2 separate regions of the Homo sapiens genome follow, and region 2 is linked to region 1. Evidence: fine-mapped expression QTL. A gene starts in region 1. The other region holds a variant in brackets. All regions are shown on one strand. Distances are between the middles of the regions. Region 1 holds the start of KLB (klotho beta). Region 2 overlaps LIAS (lipoic acid synthetase).

What was found.
Region 2: its variant is fine-mapped to the expression of KLB in testis (GTEx, PIP above 0.99).

Annotation. Positions count from the first base shown.
Region 1 is chr4:39,405,337-39,408,260 of GRCh38, reverse strand. It overlaps KLB (klotho beta), which reads right to left and starts at 1,331. Exons shown (of 5, transcript NM_175737.4): 1 at 487-1,331. The coding sequence starts at 1,311.
Region 2 is chr4:39,475,674-39,478,597 of GRCh38, reverse strand. LIAS (lipoic acid synthetase) reads right to left here. Exons shown (of 11, transcript NM_006859.4): 11 at 1-1,535. The coding sequence ends at 1,483. Among named protein-coding and RNA genes, the nearest start is that of LIAS, 18 kb to the right of the region's middle. The variant C/T (reference allele first, on the strand shown) is at 1,386.

The DNA of each region.
Region 1 (2,924 bases):
TTTCTGTATTTAATATGCATGAGTTAGCTAACATTTATTTGGCTTACTTATTTACTTACTTTATTTACTTATTAGCTAAGTTAGCTATACTTAACAACAAATACATATTTGAAATGGTTGTGCCTTAAGATAATTCTGAAATGATTGCATGTTGTCAGAAAAGGGTTCCAACAATTAAATTTATGAAGCACTGTTTTCCCACAGAATGAAAGTAAGCTCATATATTCACACTGTAGTGTATAATGGTAGATTTAAAAATAGCCTCAAAGTGCAACTTTTGAAAAAACTAATTGGATTAATACATTAAAAATACCTTAGATAAATAAAACATACACTAACTTAAATGCAAAATTTGAGGATAGATCTTTTGAATTAGCTTAAAATCAGTTGCCTTGATTTCAGTGAAGAGAATTACTGAGGCAGAAGGTAAATTCTTAAATTCTTAGTGTTTTCTGAAGCTATAAGAAGAAGCTAGCTGTACAGTACCTTGATCAAGTTGTGTCCCACAGTGTAGACAGCTGCTAAATTTCCCTTCTCTCCAGGGGCATGCATACCTGTCCCATACCCATGCCAAGCCACTAGATATGGGTTGTGAATTGTAATCCAATATTTGACACGGTCCCCAAACATCTGGAAACAGTATGTGGCATAGTCATTGAAGATATCTATTATGGTATCATTTTTCCACCCCCCATATTTTTCTTGTAGTGCCAAAGGCAAATCCCAGTGGTATAAAGTAACTATAGGTTCAATGTTTCTAAGCACTAGAGCGTCCAGAAGAGTACTGTAGTACTGCAGACCTTTTGCGTTGGCAACTGTTACTATTCCATCGGGGAAAAGCCTTGGCCAGGAAATTGAAAATTGATAAAAAGAAACTCCTATAAAATCCAGGGCTGATAAGTCTTTTTCCAGAAAAATATAACTGTCACTGGAACCATTCGTGCTGCTGACATTTTTAAGGTGTGTGTGGATGAAATGATCCCATATAGAAGGTCCTTTTCCATCCTTCTTCCAACTCCCTTCCACTTGCAATGCTCCAGTCCCAATACCCCAGAAAAAGTTTTTAGGGAAAGTGTCATAGAGAAACAGCTGACTTTCATTTACCGGAGTAAAATTAGGATTTTTAGACCATATAGCTCTTCCATCTCCAGAGAATCCAGTAACAGCTCGTAGCAGAATAAGTGCTGACAGGATGACAGATCTTTGCAATCCCCCGTTGGACATTGTATTCCTATAGCGTGTGGTTATTTCATCAGTGCTGAAGAAAATCCATTCATTCCCTGGAGATCCTGCCGCACAGCCTGGCTTCATTTGCCACCAACTGCTGGACTGTCTTATCAAAGCTTCAGTAAAAGCTTGTGATTGTAAAGCTCTGTCAATGATTAGCTTGAACTGGGAGACTGAGGATGGGTCATAGAGAGCAACGTAATTTGAGGGAGGTGGCCCTATTGCAGTCACCAACGCGTCTCCTTCTCTCTCATTATGGAAAAAATTAGATGAAAATGCATCGGTGACAAGAGTTTGAATGTGTAACTAACACATATGTAAACACTGGATTAAAATCACATTATTTTCCGTGTAGCCTTTCATATTGACCCAAATCTTTTCTGAATGTTTTGAACATTATTGAATAAGGTATATAGCTTTTCTATTTTTAGAGTTTTTGTGTGGTAATTTTATAATCTCATATATCAAGAAAAATAACATATACAAGTATATAGCATTCCTACATACCAATAGTAAAGAATTAGAAAACACAATAAGAAATTACACTTCTCCACAAAATTATAACGCATCTAAGAACAATCTTAATAAATGTTACCTATTTTAGGAAAATTGCAAAAATGTATTGGTAGATTTGAGAGAAGACTTGAATGAGAAAATATAGCACTTTGTGGATGGAAAAATGAAATACTTTTCAATTTAATACATTTAACTTAACTAAAATCCTCTAATCTCTAATTTTATTTTTTATTTTATTTATTTAACTTAACTAAAATTCTCTAATCTCTAATTTTTTAATTAATTAATTAATTTTTAATAAGAGTCTTGCTTTGTAGCCTAGGCTGGAGTGCAGTGGTGTCATCACAGCTCACCGCAGCCTCAACTTCCCAGGCTTAAGCAATCCTCCCTCCTCAGCCTCCAAGTAGCTGGGACAACAGGCACATGCCACCATGCCCAGCTGATTTTTGATTTTTTGGTAGAGGTGGGGTCTAGCTATGTCCCCCAGGCTGGTCCTGAACTCCTGGGCTCAAACAGCCCTTCTGCCTCGGCCTCCTAAAGTGCTTGGGATTATAGGTGTGAGCCACCATGCCTGGCCTAATCCCAAATTTTAGTTCAAGAAAATTATTACGAAAGGCCAGGCACAGTGATTCATGGCTATAATCCCACCACTTTGGGAGGCCAAGGCAGGCAGATCACTTGGGGTCAGGAGTTTGAGACCAGCCTAGCCAACATGTTGAAACCCCGTCTCTATTAAAAATACAATTAGCTGGGCACGGTGGTGGGCACCTGTAATCCCAGCTACCTGGGAGGCTGAGGCAGGAGAATCTCTTGAACCTGGGACGTGGAGGTTGTAGTGAGCTGAGATCGCACCACCGCACTCCAGCCTGGGCAACAGAGCAAGACTCGGTCTCAAAATAAAAAAAAAAAAAAAAAGAGAAAATTATTATGAAAGTTCCCTTGAAGAATAGGCAATATTTATTTTTAAAAAGGAAAGAAAAACCTGAAAAAGAAAATAGCAAAGGCATAGACTACCTTCAGCATGATTCTGGAATAAAGATAAACATACAGAAAGAAATACATGCACATACAGAAAGAAATATTGTACCAAATCGATAGCCTCCAAATAACCTGTAAAAAATTTAATGTTTTACAGCCTGGGGAACATAATAAGGCCCCATCTCTACAAAAAAAATTAAAAA
Region 2 (2,924 bases), 70 kb before region 1:
TGTTTTCAGAGGGACTAAATGTAATCAGCATAAAACTATTTTGCAGGTTCTGAAGTAGTCACACCAATGTAAAAAATCAACATTTACTTTTTTTTTGAGACAGTCTCACTCTGTTGCCCGGGCTGGAGTGCAGTGGCACGATATCGCCTCACTGCAATCTCTGCTTCACAGGCTCAAGTAATTCTCGTGCCTCAGCCTCCCAAGTAGCTGGGATTACAGGCACCTGCCAACACACCTAGCTAATTTTTTTATTTTTAGTAGCAATGGAGTTTCACCAGGTTGGCCAGGCTGTTCTCAAACTCCCGACCTCAGGTGATCTGCCCACCTCGGCCTCTCAGAGTGCTGGAATTACAGGCATGAGCCACCACATCTGGCCAACATTCACTCTTAAGCCTTTCTAAATTATTCCAATATTACAAGGACAAATGCTAATCTGATGAGTTTCAATCTACGTTGAATGAATGCTAAAGTTGAATGAAATGCTAAACTGATGAGTTTCAATCTATGTTGACTGTTTCATCACAGTAACATAAATGAAGTTTTTATTTTTCATAAATGAAATGTAATGATGTTAACAGTGGATTGGAAAATCTTCTGGAAGTTTTTGGGTTTTTTTTTCAAGACAGAGTCTGGAGAGCAGTTGTAGCGCCCAGGCTGGAGAGCAGTGGCACCACCTCAGCTCATTGCAACCTCTGCTTTCCAGGTTCAAGTGATCCTCTCACCTCAGCCTGAGTAGCTGGGACTACGGGTGCGTGCCACCACGTCTGGCTAATTTTTTGTAGAGATAAGGTCTCATCATGTTGCCCAGGCTGGTCTCGAACTCCTGGGTTCAAGTGATCCACCCGCCCTGGCCTCCCAAAATGTTGGGATTATAGGTGTGAGCCACCATGCCATGTTTTTAATGCATTTTAAAATTATGTTAAAAGAAAATTCTTACAAAGATATTTTAAGATTACATCACAGCAAGCAACTGTTTAATTGGGACAAAGAAGATACACTAAAAGCCAAATGAATTACTGTAATTAAATTTGTACAGTTTATTGACTTTTTTTTCCTTTTTATTTATTTGAGATGGAGTTTTGCTCTTGTCACCCAGGCTGGAGGGCAATGGAGCGATCTTGGCTCACTGCAACCTCCCCCTCCCAGGTTCAAGTGATTCTCCTGCCTTAGCCTCCCGAGTAGCTGGGATTACAGGCACCCACTACCACGCCTGACTAATTTTTGTGTTTTTAGTGGAGACAGGATTTCACCATGTTGGCCAGGCTGGTCTCGAACTCCTGACCTCAGGTGATCCACCCGCCTTGGCCTCCTAAAGTGCTGGGATTACAGGCGTGAGCCACTATGCCTGGCTATTGACATTTTTTTTTTTAAGCAAAGAGGTGGGG[C/T]ACATCCACTGCAGTCCAGGCATTCTGGCACCACCTCTGTTATTAACTGGAATCAAATTTTAAAAATTTCTGTGATCTTGAAGGTCTTGTTGAAGTTTTAGAGGTCTTTTGTTTTTCTTTTAGCCACTAGATTTTTCAGGAAAAATTCACCTATTTAGGAAAAAGGAAAACACATTAATATCAATTTAAAGTAAATAACAGTGAGACAACTATTTCAGAATTATATTTTTGGTGTTCCCCCTTTAAAGAAGACTTTTGTATTTATTGGCACTTCTCTCTTCTCAAACCTCAATGGCAATATTTTTCTAACCTAAATATCCCCTATTATCTTTGGCCTTTCTCCCCAGCAATAATGACTAGAGTCTCCTACTATTATTCTTTCTAGTAAGCCAATATTACAAAGGGTGACCCTACTGTATATATGGGTCTGCACATTAATTCTACTTTATGTGCACTATCTATCCCTCATCACTGTCAAAGTATTGCTCTTGGCAAAATTCATTTCCAAGAGCAATTTTGCTACATTATTAGGCTGGATCTGATGTTTATAAAACAGATCTCGTTGCAGCTGAGCAGACGCATCTGATGGAATCTCTTTAGCTTATTCCCCTCTAGGGAAGCAAGAGCTCTTCATTTGTAATGGGCTTTCTCCCCACCGCCTGAGTTGTGCCTACGCAATAAGTTAGCAGCTTAGAGGGCACATTCTCTTTTTAGGCCATTAGTGTTCCATTTAGTCTATTGCTCTTACAGCATGACTCAATGCTTATTGGTAGAGTGCAGCACTAGAGGCCTGATTTTATGAGGAGTCTGATTAACTTCTCTTTGTCATCTTACATATGAGTAGAACTGTGATGAGTCTATCTACATATAATCTCTGCAAATCCCAAGGCTCATAACCCAGCCAAGTAATCCATGCTGCTCCATACCTCCTCCAAATGTCGTGGGAGTAGCACCAACTTTATCAGACCCTAATCCATCATTTTAGTCTAATGCTCATCATATACCAGAATCTGATCTTTTCCTGGTAATTTAGAAAGCATCAGAAAGTTCATAATTTACTTCCTTTTATGTTAGAAATTTTTCTTTAGCAAAAGAAAAACTCCTTTCAAAGGACATTACTCTAACCATTCTAGAAGCTGATAGTGGTTCTATCCTTCACATGTATTTTTAGCTTGCCAGCAGTGCTGCTTGAAGACTAAATCACTTACAATTACTGGTTTTCAAAGTCCCCACATTCTGTCACTCAGTGCTGAATCAAATTCTTGGGTTTTCAAACTATGATGAGCTACTAGTTCATTAAAATGTTTTAAATTACTATTTTTATTTATTTATTTTTGAGACGGGGTCTCATTCTGTCACCCAGGCTGGAGTGCAGTGGCACGATCACAGCTCACTGCAGCCTCAACCTCCTGGGCTCAGGTGATCCTCCCACCTCAACCTCCTGGGTAGCTAGAACTAGAGGTGCCCACCACCACCCAGCAACTCAGCCACCCAGCTAATTTTTGTATTTTTGTAGAGATGGGGTTTTGCCATGTTGCC